Linked DNA regions of Homo sapiens: region 1 is linked to region 2. The links come from fine-mapping of genetic effects on gene expression. Tissue or cell type: subcutaneous fat. Region 2 holds a variant in brackets; the other region holds the start of a gene. All regions are shown on one strand. Distances are from middle to middle.

Region 1 (7,616 bases), 65 kb before region 2:
AGTGAGGGCCACTGGCAGGGCAGCTGGAAGGTTAAATGGGATCATGCAGGTAGAAATTTTGGTAGAACCTGACCCTTGGGGCCTGGGCAATAGATGATGCAGCTGTGCATGGTTTTTTAGAACAACCCAGGCTTCTGTTTTGTTTGAAGTAGGGTGGGACCAATGAAAAGCATGTTTTTAGGCTCAAACACATCTGAGTCCACATCAGGAATCTTTCAGAGTCCAACTGTGGCCAGCGAGGCCCTGAGTACTGGACAGGAGACATGCCTTGTGCTGACCAGTGCCCACATGCTGGTGGCTGCAACCTGGGCTGGCTGCTCACCAGTTGCTCACAGGCAGAAGGGTCAGGGCCAAGCCTGATCCCTCAGAGCAGGAGAGTTGGGCATGGAGTTGTGGCAGGTGGAACATCATATGCCCACGCCATTGGAGCTGTGGTCCCTCCTTGGCAGTGCTCTGAGGGAAACTGGCATCCCTGTGCCCCTCCCTTTAGAGTCTTTGGCTTCCTCATTGTGTCTTACTGCGAAAGAGCAGTCAGACTGATATGGATGATGGGAGGAGCTGCCCTTTGGCTCAGAGGAGGAGTGTCAGAGAAGGGGTCACAAAGACAGCTCTGTAGGCTGAGCCAAAAGCAGTATAGGGTAATGTTAGGAGCAGGTCTTGGTGCAACTGCCTGGGTGCCCCTAGGTTCCACTGCTAACTTGCTATGTGACTGAGCCACTGTACACTTTAGTTTCCTCCTCTGTAAAATGGGGATAACAGTAGTCCTAGCCATAAAGTTGTCATGAGGATTAAATGAAATAGTGTGGGAAAACTACTGACATGTGGTGCATGTTCAGTACAAGTTATCCTCACCATTATCATCATCACCACCATCATCATCATCATCACCAGCATCATCATCATTACCGTCATCACCATTACCATCATCACCATCATCATCATTACCATCATCACCATCATCACCATCACCATCACCATCATTATCACCACCATCATCACCATCACCATCATCATCACCACCATCATCACCATCATCACCAACATTATCATCAGACCACCATCATCACCATCATTACCACCACCATCATCATCATTATCATCTTCACCATCATGATCACCATCATCATAACCACCATCATCACCATCATCACCACCACCATCATCACCATTATCATCCTCACCATGTTCACCATCATCATCATCACTATCACCACCACCACCATCATCACCATTATCATCCTCACCATCATCACCACCATCATCACCACTTTCATCACCATCACCGTCATCACCATCATTATCACCACCATCATCACCATCACCGTCATCACCATCATCACCACCATCATCATCACCATTATCATCCTTACCATCATCACCATCACCATCACCACCATCATCACCATTATCATCACCATCATCAACGCCATCATTATCACCATCATCACTATCATCACCATCACCATCACCATCACCAACTCATCATGATTTAACAGGTGGGCTGGCAATCTGAATGTTGAAGACAGAGGGAGAAAATCAACCTGGGGCAGTCAGATTTCTACAGTCCTCCCCAGCAGGACCCAGGTGGGCTACTGGGAGTCCCAGAAGCAGATATCAGCCCAAAAGATGAGCTTTGATAATTAGAGTGAGGCTATGGTGAGACTGAGTGACACTGCGGGGTGCCAAAATAATCTAGGGTTGTTGGAATGCTGACAGCAGACAAAAGTAAGATAAGGTATCTCCTGACACCACCTCCTTCCATCTGCTCTCAGACGGGGCTCTTTGGAGAGGATCTGCCAGGAAGAACTGAGGTCTTATGCCACCTCCACCTCTACGTAACCTCAAACAGGCGTCATCTTGTCTCCTGGCCTCAGTTTCCTCATCTGTAAAACGGGGACACATCAGGATCTGCCCTCAGCAAGTTGCTGAGTGCCTGCCCTGAGCAGCCGGTAGGTGGCGCTGATGGGCTGGTGGTTGGGTTGGGGGAGGCTCGCATAGGGTCTCTGGAGGTCCCAGTAGGGCACTGGGGAGACCTCCCCTGATTCCCTGGAGGCAGAGCAGAGCTCTTGTCTTTGCAGGAGCTGCAGATTCTGCCTTGGGTATCTTAGAAGCTTTGTACAGGCATCTCCAGCTCAGTGGGAACCAAATGCCATCCTATCTCCCCACCTCACTGGTGTCACCATCTTCCTGGGAGCTGTCTGGATAACCCTCTCCCTGGCCCTCACCTTTAATTTGTCCCTGAGTCCCATCAGGGTCACCCTCCATCCCACTGCCATCTTCCTGGGAGCTGTCTGGATAACCCTCTCCCTGGCCCTCACCTTTAATTTGTCCCTGAGTCCTATCAATCAGGGTCACCCTCCATCCCACCACCATCTCCCACCTGAGTGAGAATGGGAACCTCCTCTCCCACTCCCTCCAATTCCCCTCCACTACAGCTGGGGGAGGCTTCTAAAATGCCAAATATAGCCCAGTTTCTGCAACTTGCAGGGTCCCCAGCCCTCGGGAGAAAGTCCAAACCCCTGACAAAGCCTGTGAAGCCCCCTGAGGCCCTGTGGGTCTGGGGCTAGCTCTGGGCTGCAGCCCTGTCTCTGGTCATAGTCCAGCATCCACCACGGTCCAGGTGCACTGAGCTGCCGGCCCTCTCTCCCCTCCGCTGGCTCCTTCCTCCTGACTGCCCGTCTTTCCCTGGCCTCTCTATGCTTCCCGCTGGCATTGACGACAGTGTCCTGGAGAGCTGGGCAGGGAGGGCTGCCTTGGGTTCCTACTGTGTGCTCCACCTAGTGCTGGTCTTGGCCCTTAGCAAGTGCTCAGTACACCCGTGTGGAATTGGGCGGTGAGGGTAAAGGGAGGAGGAGGGAAGGGCCAAGAGCTCCCTGTGCTCAATGAAGAGAGGGACTTGAGCAAGTACTCATTTTTAGTACTTCCCAAGATGTGTACAAGAGGCCTGGGGCCAGCAGAACTCCTTGCCCCTGCCCATCCCCCTCCAGTCTATGGGGTCCACCCCCAGCTGCCCAGCTGTGAGGCCTCCATGGCTCAGCTCCTCATCTATTAAGTGAGGACAGCAGTCGTCCCCCTCACAGCGAGGCCACGTGGGTTACATAACTTTTTCTTAGGGTGCCTGGCCTGCAAGAAACCCCTAAGAATGTTCTATATTCCTAGGCCCACTGTTATTCTTAATATTACCCAGGAAAGGGTGGTGAAGCGAGTAAATAAATGAATAGGTGAATGAATAAATGAATGAATGAATGGCACCCTAGCCCCACTGTCTTCTGGGTGGCTTCAGGATCCTTGAGGAGGTTGGCCGTGTAGGTTCCCCTCAGGTAGGACCTAGGTGAGCTGGGGAGTCTTAACTCACCCAGGGCAGGCCTTAAGGTTGGGCACACCCATGTGTGGGCTCTGCCCTGGCCTTAACCGAGAGAGGGAAATGTTGACGGGGAAGAAAGCCCTGCCCACCAGGCAGCCCCACCCACCTGGGCTAGCCCCACTCACAAGCAGCCCCACCCACCTGGGTTAGTCCCACCCACCAGGCAGCTCCGCCTACCTTGGCTATCCCCCTCTGAGTTCTTGCCTTGATTCTCCTGTTACTGTCCCGCGAACCCACATCCCTACAAAGCAGGAAAGTATGCTTGGGAGAGGCCAAGTGAGTGGGGAATCAGCCCAAAGCCAGGCGTCCAGGGTCTCCCTCACCTGAAGCTGACTTTTTCCCCACCTTGGACAGAGGGCGGGAGATGCCATCCCCACTGAACCCAGTGCTTTCACCAGCCATATTAGCTCCCACTCACCCCCCGTCGTGGAAGCCTCGGCCGTCACACCTGCAGGGCCGGGGCGTGCATGGCCTCAGGGATGGCCTGTTCAGCTGCTGGGTGACTCGGGTCCAGGTGCCTCACCACCTGCTGAGCTCTGTGTGATTTCTGGACACTTCTGCTCGTTGCCTTTGGGCTCAGTGAAGAGTCTGGAGTTTATCTGGAGTGAGGTGGCCGGTTCTTGGTGGGATCTGAGCAGGTAAGAAGCAGGGTCTTTCTTATGTTTTAAGGAAAGCCCTGTGGCTGCTGGGTGGGGGACCAGCTGGAGGGGCAGGAGGGCAGCAGGTGACTCATTACAAGGCTGGGGCCATCATCCTGTGAGAGCTGGGCATGACCAGTGCAGGTCAGTGGGGTTGAGGGTACAGACCAGTGGGACCCACAGACGGCTCGGGAGTGACCAAGCCTCTGCTGAGCTGCCCAGGTCCCCTCTGGTGGACACCTCCTACCCGGAGCCCCCCAAGGTGGTGCCAAAGCTAGACCACCATACAGCCAGAGGCCTCCAGGCCCTACCCACGACAGCCCAGCTGGCTTCTGCCCAGCCACCGTCACACACAGAGGGCAGCCGTCCCCATGGTCCCTAGAGGCGGTTGAGGACCACTGTGCCTGGAGTCATCTGTGGCTATAAACCAGGAGGAGAAGGCTGCCCACCCCCTGCCCCAGAGATGGGGAGGCTGGGGCCACCCGGTGGATTTGGGCAGGTCCCAGCTTCCAGGATCATGAGGTGAAAACGTGAAGGGACCCTAGAGGCCATGGGGACCCAGGCACAGAGCGGCGGCCTCTCATCCTCCCCATGGTCAAGGAGGTCAGTGCCTTCCCGGGGTGGATTACGGATGGTAGTATCTTCCTTCTCCTCAGAGTCCATTCAGGAGCAGGAAAGTTCATCTCAGACCCTAAATCCAGCCACGTCATGCCACGCTTAACACCTCTAACAACTTCCCCTGGCACTTAGGACAGCGTCTGGCTCCTTCCCTCGGCTCATGGCCCTCAGAATCTGCGTCACATACACCCCAGCTCTCCCGATAGGTCTCTGCACTCGCTGTTGCCTCTGCCTGGAACAGTCTCCCTCCTGGTGTCATTGTCTCCGTGGTGTGTCCTTCCTGACCTTCCACCTCCACCAGGTGCCGACACTTCCCTGACCCCAGTAACCTCTTCTCTTGGGTGGGTGAATGCCACCTGCTGATGTCTGATTTATTCATCGGTTTTCTTGTCTGTAGTCTGTCCCCCTTGGGGACAGGGACTCGTTGCTCATGTTCACCCGGCAGGCTGGACACTTCGTGGAGGGCTCCAAAGCCGGCAGATCCCGGGGCCGCCTCTGTCTCTCCCAGGCCCTGCGTGTTGCGGTGAGAGGAGCATTTGTGTCTCTGTGGTTTGCTGCTGGAGCTGGTGACCGGGAGAGAAACAAGGGAGACAAGGGTGCCCAGACAGGTGCGGGGCTCAGCCAGGAGGCAGAAGACGTGGACGTGTCCCGGGCCAGGAGGGTCACAGATGCACCACAAGGCACTCTGTGTGGCACTGGGAACAGGAATTCTGGGAGTCAGTCTGCAAGGGTGGTGGGCGTTGCTCACCTGGGAGAAGCCTTTAGAGTGGGCGTTGAGCAGGCCATTAGCTCGTGCCCTGAGGAGGTGCATGGGCGGCATGGGCTCTCCATGGAAATTATGTGGGCGCGAATGGATGTGGCTCTGCGCTCACCTGGGCGAGGACTTCTGGCCGGTGCCGGGGCACTCTGCATGACCCTGGCAGAATCGAGCTGCCCTGACTATGAAAGGGGAAGAAGAGCATGCCTGACCCTCCACCGGCACCCCACCCCTCACTGCTCCACCTGGGGCCTGCCTCTGCGGGTGGCTGGGTCCTGGCTGACTGTTGTGACTGTTGAGGCCCTGGGGGGGTGGCGCATGGGAGTTAGGAGGACTGGCCAGGTGGGGCCCACTATGCACCCACCCCCAGTGTCAGGTGCTTCTCCTCTCCTCCTCCACCACCTCCTCCTCCTCCTCCTCATCATCATCCTCACTTGTTGAGGACGTCCTGTGTGCCAAGTGGTTTATATGCCCAGCCTCATTTAATCCTCAGAATGACTCCATGAGGTAGCTACTAAAACCCCCCACTTAACAGATGAGGAAACTGAGGCCTAGAGAAGCTCAACAAGTTGCCTAAGTTCCAAGTTTCCTCTCCCAACTCTCCTACCCTCTCCTCTTCCTTCTCCTTTCTCCCATTCTTCCCTGCCTCTTCCCTAACTAGACAATTTTTTATTGAGTGTCTCCCAGGTGCAGGCATGAGCCAGGTGCTGGGAAAATCATGATAACCCAGCTCCTTCTGGTCATTTTCTCAGCTGGTTAGAGGCTGGGAGGACACGCAAGTTCAGCTCCAGCCGACTGGGGCATTGGTGGTAGCCCCTGGAGACATTGTGCAATGGGGCTACGAGGCTGCATCTGGCTCCAGGGAAGCGTGTTGCAATCCATGAGTGATGTCTGCCATGCGTACAGGCATGGAGAGTGAGGCGCCTGTACTGTCTTTCTGTAGACCCTAGACTGGTGGGGCCTCTGAAATGCATCCAGACACTGTGCTGGGTGTGTTGCATGGCCCTCCCAACCAATTCAGTATTTTTCTCCCCATTTTCCAGGGAGAAATCTAAGGCGTCAGAATGTAAGGTTCTTATTGGAACCCAGGCTCCAGGGTCCCTGGTTTTCTGTGACATCATGCTGCAGGACCCTGTTTCTCTCTTTGCTTTGGCTGCTGGGGAGCTCAGAAGGGAGCTTTAGGCTTGCTCTCAGTCACCACATTAGCTCAGGGGTTTGGGCATTTTTGTCGCCGTCTCCTTTGGGCTCTGTCTCCTCCCTGCTGTGCTTCCTGAGGAGCAGGCCGGATGTAAGTTATCAACTATAAATAAAACCAAGACTTCCGTTCTGGCTCTCACTCTAGTTTCCTGGTGCATTTTTTTTTTTTAAAGTTCTTAATCAAGGGAGGGGATACTCCTAACTGAAGATGACATCAGCATCAGCTGGCCCCGGGGGGCAGGCCCCCAGCCCCCAGGCCCGTGTGGGCCCTGAATGCCCCCATTATGAGGGGTAACCTCATTACACAAGACACGCTGCACGGCGGAATTTCAAATGGGGTTTTGTGGTTTCTGCCCTTTGCAGCCGAGCACACACAGGCAGCTGCGGCCGCCCGGCTTCCTCTCCCGCCGCAGCCCTGGCGCCTGGCCAGCTGGTGACCACCCCTTCTACCATGAGTCAGTTTCATTCTTAACTCTCTGACTCAGGTCCCTTTAAAGGGACAGCAGAATCCATTCATTCCAAGCAAGGGAGGAGAGGTGAAGAACCTGCCTGGGAGAGGAGTCAGGGGTCAAGAGGAAGCTTAGGGGTCCCAGGCAGGCGGCTGAGTGAGCAGCCCTGCCTCACTCCCCTACCCCAGACACCAAGGATGGAGGGGCTTTCCTGCCTGTTCCAAGGGAGACGGACCTGTGACTTCCCCAAAGCAGACCATCTGCAAGGCGGGAAACCCCGGTGTTCAGCAAGCTTCCTTTCTGTCTGGGCACAAGCCCTGCCCAAGCTCTGGGCTCAGAAGGTAATGGGGGCTTTGCAAGCCACCCCCAATGCCCCACGTGCACCACTTCCTTCTCATCCTTGGCCCCCTCATTCCTTGTACTTCCGTCGCAACAACCTCTGGAGTTCCTAGAACATCCTGAGCTGCTTCCCCCGGCTGCCTCCCTGCCACCTGGCATGCACGTCACTCCGCTCTTTGTGGTGGTCCCATCTCCTCCTTCCGAGCCCAGCTGCATGCCACCTCCTCCCACGTACATACTGCCAGTCCGTCATA
Region 2 (7,616 bases):
TAGCCTGCAGCTTGTTCATTTTGCTGGCAGCGAGACCCCTTGAGATCCAACTGCCCAAATGAAACATAAAGAGGCCGAAGCGCATGGTGGTAAAAGATGTGAGTCCCCAGATCGAAGCTTGGGGCAATTCTGCATGAGTTAGTTACACCGCTGCAACAAAGACACCTAAAAACACAGGGGCTCAATCCCTGCGTCAAGATCTCACATAAAAGGGAGATAGGCAGCCCAGGGCTGATTGGTGGCCTGACAGTGCCAGGGGCCTGGCTCCTTCTATCTCTCTCCCTCGCCATCCTCAGCAAGTCACTTCCATCTTGGGTCCAAGATGGGGAGGGAGGAGGGGACACCTCTTGCCATTAAGGGCAAGGCTTAAAAGGGCTTATGGAGCTTCAGCTGGAGTGGCCTCAATCAGAACTTATTCATGGCTGGGATGTGTTGCAAGGGAGTCTGGGAAATGCAGTGTTTATCTGGGAGGCCACGTGCCCAGCGAAGCATTATTACATTATTGTACAATAGGATGGGATGGGAGAGAAAGGAAGGAAAGAGGGAGGGGGAGGATGAAGAGAAGGAAGGAGGGAGGGAGAGGAGTAGGGAGGGAAAGAAGGAGGGAGGAAAGAAGGGAGGGAGGGAGAGGAGAAGGAGGAAAGGATGGATGGAAGGAAGAAAGGAAGGAAAGAGGGAGGGAGGGAGGAGAGAAGGAAGGAAGGAGCGAGAAAGGAGGGAAAGAGGGAGGGAAGAGAGAGGGAAGGAAAGGAGGGAGGAAGGAAGGGAGGGAAGAAAGATGGATGGAGGGAGGGAGGGAAGAATAGAAGGAAAGAAGGAGAGAGGGAAGGAGGGAGGAAGGAAGGAGGGAAGGAGGGAGGAAAGAAGGAGGGAGGAAGGAAGGGAGGGAGGGAAGAGGAAACACTGGACTCTAAGCATGTACAGTAAGCATTGTGAGCCTCAGTTTCCTCGTCTGTAGAGAGGGAAGCAGTTTCAAAGGCTGCTTGGAAGACTGATTGACGAGGCACAGTGCACCCGCAGGTAAAGGGGGACTACCTCACTGTTCTCCCGCCCCCGAAGACCTCCATGCTGGGCCAGGAGGACAGAGCGGGAGGTCTGCCCACTGCCCAGGAGCACCCCAGTGGGTGGAGTGAAGACTGGGCTGGCACACTGAGACAGTGGAGTCCACCGGGAGCTCAGGGGACTCAGGGACTCTTCAGCCCCTATCTGGGAACCCACTAGGGTTGGGACCCCTGTGCCAGACCTGGCCCAGCTCGGGGAGGGCTCTGCACTACCCGCTGCCTGTGGTCTGGCCCAGCCCCTGCCAGCACCGGCCCATGGTGATGTCACTCAGCATGCCCAGTGCCTGCAGCACTTCTCTGGTCTCTGGCCCCAGACCCACTGGCCGGCCGGACGCTCGATATATTCTGTTTTGAAAGAAAACAAACTCTTTTGAAACACTGCTGCTGGGAGCACAGGCTGAAAGTCTCGCCCCCACACTCCTTTCCCCTCCCATGGGAGCTGGTGCACATCTGAGCATCGGGGAAACCTGACAGGTGGGGCCACATGTGGGGCAGATGCCCCTTCCCCACCCTCCAAGGCAGCAGACGGGTACAGAGCCCCTGCTGTGTGGCTGCCTGGGATGCAGAGACAGCATTGAGACTGAAGGCAATAGGGAGCTATTGAAGGATTGAGAGGGAGAGTGACTGGGTCAGATAAGTGTCTCAGGAAGTTGGGGCAGTGCGACCCCCATTGGAAACATGTTGCAGTTGGTGTGAGTTGAACTAGGGGCACGATGGGGTGACAAATGTGAATGACATTTAACACAAGAAGCCACGGAGTTAGTGGCCACTCAGGCCCAAAGGGGCCCCAGATCATGCCAAGGCCTCCCAAGGCCGCCTCAACCTCAGGTCTTCATGGCAGGAACTGGGGGCCCCGTTTGGGAGGCTCTGGAGCTCCAGCAGAGCAGAGGGTCTGGGGAAGGCTTGCCAAGGCAGGGCCTTTGCCACATCCATGGTGGGGTGGGATGGGGGGTGGTCCTGAAGGGTCTGGGTGGTCAGGAAGCCCAGCCTGCATGGTCTCCCTCCAAGTGTTGTCAGCGCCTCGGGGGACCTTGGAACCGGGGCTGGGAATGCTCCACCTGCCAGCCTAGAGCAGCATGATCATGCCAGCCTGGCCCCCAAGCCAGTCCAGGGCAGTGGGACAGGGTGACCACAATAGCCTCAGAGGGGCAGAGTAACAATGGTGACCTCCTTCTGAGCTGTCCCTTGCACCAGGGACTCGGCATGGGACTGCTTTCATCCTCCAGAAGCAAGCCCAGGAGGTAGAGGCTGTCGGGGTGCCCACGCTGCAGGTGGGGAAATGGGTCCCACAGAGAAGGAGGACACTTGCTGGAGGTGACAGCCAGGGAGGGCCAGAGCCGGATCTAGCCCCCTGCAAACCTTCTGCTCACAGTTCGCACCAACTGTGAGCCCATAAAGGCATGAATATAAGGGGTGCATGCGTGTGCATGTGTGTGTGCATGCGCAGGTGTGTGTGTGTGTGTGCATGTGTGTGCATGTGCGAGTGTGTGGATGTGCAGGTGCTGGTGTGTGTCTGCATGTGTTTGCATGTGTGCACGTGCGAGTGTGTGCATGTGTGTGCCTGTGTGTGCATGTGCAGGTGCAGGTGTGTGCGTGTGTGTGAGTGTGCATGTGTCTATGTATTTTAATGAAGCCACAGTTGAGAGGCAGGATCTGGCTGGTGCCCTCACTCTTCCGTCACCAGTCCTCACTGTGGGGTCGAGGACAGGCCACACATGGGGCTTCCTTTCCTGTAACCCCATGCGTGAGCCAGCCCCTATTCCCTCAAGGACCCAGTTCTTTCCTTGAAGAAAATGGGGTTCTTATGCCTACTTCTCACAGTGTTCAGGGACTGAGCAGTGAGTTGTGAGGCTGACCACCCAGTGCCAGCCTGAGAGGCCCTGGGGGTGTTGGAAGGGCTCCGTGGTGGGGGGAATGGGTGGGTTGCTCTTCTGGGGCCCCCTCCCCCTTTGCAGGCAGGTCCAGGCTAGAGCACAGCTCCAGGCTCCCTGGCAAGATGCACCTGGACAGGTCTTTGTCCTCCAGCCTTGGGGAAGGACGGGTGACTTGTCTGCCTTCTTGGAGGAGGGTGCAGAGGGTGGGCTGTGGTGGGCATGGAATGAGGGGGTGTGTATGGGTGTGTGGGCTAACCCCTCCTGCCACAGGGCCTTAGCACATGCCATCCCCTCCAGCTAGCATCTTCCCCGTCCCCCGTCACACAGGTAACTCCCACCCCTGCCTCGGATCCCAGATCACGTGTCCCTTCCGGGGAAGCTGCCTCTGACTTCCCTGGCTAAGGCCACCCCCATGTCCCCCAGGGGCCTCTTCTATAGGAGCAGCAATGCCACACAGGGCTGTCTTCTAACATCTGACTGAGGGTGAGGCCCATGCCTTCCTGCCCACCACTTCATCCCTGTGCCCAGCACAGTGGCAGATGTAGGGTGGGCACTCAGAAATGTTTGTAGAATGAATGAAGAGAGGAATGAATTTGGCCAACTCCATGGCCTATGCCCCTGGCTAAGGCAGCCCAGAACTTAAGGTACTTTCCAAAGCAGCTCTGGGGAAGAGCCTCAAATGGTGGGAGAGAAGAAGGTAGGAGCCTAGGCCTGGGTAGCCTCTGAGGCTGGAGGTCTCCAGGGTGGCAGGGTGGCATCATGATCGAGGTCATGGATTGCCTGCATGCTCCCATGGAGCTGCCTGCATGCTCTCATCATCTGGCTGAGGCACCACAGACAAGGGACTCAACTGCCCTGTGCCTCAGTTTCTCCCTCTGTAAAATGGGGATACTAACGCACCCTACAGGACTGCTGTGAAGACTCAAGAGAGTTCATGTAAAGTCCTCAGAACAGTGGCTGGCTCACTGTAAGAGCTGGGTGTTTGTCAGATTTCTTTATTTTTTCCTTATTTGCTTTGAAATCAAGTTTTTTTAAACAATATAAATGACAGATAAATGTTCAAGACATACATGCAAAAGAAACAAAAAAATCTAAAAGAACATTTAAATCCCTACAAATCTCACCTGCCAAAGAAACTACTTATATTAGTCAGGGTTAGGTTCTAGTGTGAATAATAGACACCTCCCCAAATAGCAGTGGACTAAACAACACAGAAATTGCTTTCTCTCTCAAGTGAGAGTCTAGAAATGGGATAGGAGGTGGTTGGTCCTGCTCTGCAAAGCCTTTGGAGACAGTCACCTCCTGACTATTCTCTGAGCCGTTAACCTGGAGGTATGGTTCTTGCCTTTGGGTCCAAAACAGCAGCCAGAGCTCCAGCCATCACGTCCAAGTCCCAGGCAGCAAGAAAAAAGAAGGGATGAACAAAGTGCATGTCACTTGCCTTTTAAGGAAGACTTTTGGAAGCTACAATATGTCCTTTTCTTTATCTTCTTTTCCCATGTGTAACATGGCCACACCTAGCTGCAAGAGAGTCCAGATAGATGGTCTTTACTACAGGTGGGCCATGTGTCTTTTTCACTGTAAAGGGGATCACAGGTAGCTTCCCACGCCCACAAATAAAGATTCACAGATTTTTAAAGGCTGCTTGCAATTCCATCAGGCAGAGGTTTGATGATTTCACCAGTATCAACAGACATGCAGACCATTGCCAGTTTTCTGGTATTACAGCCCCTGACACCCCTGGATGTATCATCTTTGCACCGGGTTGGAACATTCCTTCCCGTAAGTTCCCAGAAGTAGAAATGCTGAGTCAAAGAGGATACACTTTTGACATTTGGACATGAATTGAGAAATTGCCCTTCAGAAAGGTTGGCCCAGTTTGCAATCCTCCTC[A/T]CCATGCTGTGGGGGCTCAGGATGGAGCTGAGAATGTCCCCAGACCTGAGGCTCAGCTGCCCCTGCTGGGTCCCTCTTGGCATTGTGGGTTTGCTCCCATATTTACTCCAAATTTAGGACTTTTTCCTCCCTTCCCCATGGTAGAGGTCGGGGAAGTGTGCCCCCAATCCTCCCAGTGGGATCCTTGGGGAAGCCCCTGCCTTGGACAACACCAATCATGAGGTCCCAACCCCTCTAGATGACAGCAAGGAGCAGGAGCCTCCCATAGTGCCTGGGGCTGTTGTTTGAGCTAAGCAGGGGCAGGTGCCTGGGGCTGTTGTTTGAGCTAAACAGGGGCAGTGGCTGCCACCCTGAATGAGGGGCTGGGGCAGGCATCCTGTGGGTGATCACCCTGGCCCCTCAATCAGATGGACAAGGAGTACAGCCACCAAGCCTTGAGATGCTGTGCTGCAAATGCCCGGAAATGTGCATCAGCCTGGCTGGGGCAGGCCTGACGGCTCCTAACCGCAGCTGGCAGCAGGGTGCCAGATTTCACTCCAAATAAAAATACAGGATGCCCAGTTAAATCTGAATTTCTGATAAACAACAAAAGTTTTAGTATAACCTAAATACTGTATGGACAAAGGATCGAAGAAAGTGCATGCTACTCGCCTGTTTAAGGAAGCTTCCTAGAAGATGTAACATGTCCTTTCTCCTTTATCTCCCATGGGTGACACAGCCCCACCCAGCCGCATCCTTTACTTTATTTGGCAGCCCTCACTGGCAGCACTGGGGCCCCTGGAAGCAGCAAGCCCAGTGGAAAAAACCTGGACTTTGACACCAGACAGCCTGGATTCAAATCTTGGCCTTTGCCTCTGGTAGCTGTGGACTTCTGGCCTAGTCACTTAACCCCTCTGTCCCTCAGTTTCCTCGTCTATACATATGGGGGCAAGAATAGCACCTACTTAATGAGGGCATAATGAATATTACAGGAAAGACGTCTGCCTTCAGCGACATGGAAGTACAGATTAGCTCTATGCCTTTCCTCTATGCAACGTTCAGAAATGTTGTATACATTTTAACTAACATCCTTTTCAGTGCATAGCTAAGGGGCACGAGAAAACAAGGGAAATCTCTGCGGTGTGGAAATAAAGACAGAATTAAAGCGAAGGGTGGGAAGTTTGTGGGGTGAGGCCGCAGAAGACCTGGGAGGGATCGCTGGTTGTGGTTCCCCGGAGGCTGCAGCCGTGCTCAACAGCCAGGAAGGGGCCAGGGATGAGGCTCCTGTCCCATGTGGGGCAGAGTCAGAGCTGAGCACCCCATGGGGAGCCAGTGTTCACAAAGTGCCTCCCTCTCAGGACACGGGTAAAGGAGGTAAGTCTGCCCACTGGCTCAGGGAAATGAAATGAAGTTGACAGGGGAAGAAAAACCTCTCTACTAGGAACCCATCATCATTGGTCTGTCTTCAGACTGCATTCAGATTGAAATGCCTCTATTTACCTTATGGCCTGGTAACTCTCAAGTCAAGAAATTACCATAGAGAGTGAGCCTGAACCAGTGACCCATGGGGCATCTAGAAGAATCAAACCCAAAACCTCACCAGAGAGACTTCAGGACCATCTGGGATTTCTATAAATAAAGTCCATCGGAAGATGAGCTCACAATAATAAATTACAAACACAAAGGAACTGATCACCAGGAGTAGAATCAGCATGCATGGGTTTAAAACCTCAAAGGCACTGATGTTTGCAGGTGAAGACGATAGAATAATACATTTTTAATGTTCAAGGAACTACAAGGAGGAGTTGAAAACACGGAAATGGCAAGTCATCATGAAGATGAAATAGATATGTTTCAAAATGAACCAAATAGAATTTCTAAAAATTAAAAGTTAAATTAAAGCTCCATGTCTTGAGACTTCTTTGTTTGGGCCATGGTCATGAAAAGGGTTGGGTTAATTCACCCATTGAAACAACTAGAAAATGAGATAAAATGGACGAAATAACGATTTTTTTAAACACAATGCCAACAGGTAGAGCAGGACTGGGGCCCCCGGGAGAGGGAAACACACAAAGTGGGTATGACAACCACTCTGGCTTCCACCTAGTGGCAAGTTTCTGGAGAAAGAAAGAAGGAGGGGCACAGGAGCAAAGCATGGTGGCCCCAGTGTTGAGGACTCATAAATTCATCTGATAGAAAAGTAAAGCAGATGACATGCCAAGGAGCCCAATTAGGCTGACAGTAAAAATAGAAACCAGAAAACAACAGAAATGATACAAAGGTTGAGAAAAAATGATGATCAAATGGTGCTTATATAGCTGATACACTATCCTTCAAGAGCAAGGGTGACATAAAGACATGTTTGGACCCAAAATATTAATAGAATTTACCACTTACTTTGACAGATGAGTGGGTTTTTAAAAATGTGGTGTATATATACGACATTTATTATATATAATGTATTATATATGTACAATATATGATATAATATATACTATATTATAATGATATGTACTATATTATATATAATATATAATAAATACATAATATATTCTAAATGCAATATACAATATAAATATATAATATATAATCTATTATATATGTATTAATATAAATTTATATGTACAATATACAATGTACAATATAATATATAATAAATTATATAATTATATAATTATATACTATCTATACTATATATTATAATATATAGTGTGTATATACTATATACATTATATATATACTATATACATTATATATACTATATATAATATAATATATAGTGTGTATATACTATATATTATAATATATA

What was found. PIP is the estimated chance that this variant, and not a neighbour inherited with it, causes the effect.
Region 1: MYEOV starts here. The variant in region 2 is fine-mapped to the expression of MYEOV in subcutaneous fat (GTEx, PIP 0.96).

Annotation. Positions count from the first base shown.
Region 1 is chr11:69,290,575-69,298,190 of GRCh38, forward strand. It overlaps MYEOV (myeloma overexpressed), which reads left to right and starts at 3,581. Exons shown (of 3, transcript NM_001293291.2): 1 at 3,581-4,002; 2 at 4,659-4,921; 3 at 5,018-6,713. The coding sequence starts at 4,781. The coding sequence ends at 5,818. RefSeq lists enhancers at 2,152-2,703, 6,431-7,293, 6,553-7,616, 7,259-7,328, 7,294-7,616.
Region 2 is chr11:69,355,624-69,363,239 of GRCh38, forward strand. All of the region lies in intron 2 of LOC105369370 (a long non-coding RNA gene), which reads left to right. Among named protein-coding and RNA genes, the nearest start is that of MYEOV, 65 kb to the left of the region's middle. RefSeq lists a silencer at 4,284-4,484. The variant A/T (reference allele first, on the strand shown) is at 4,829.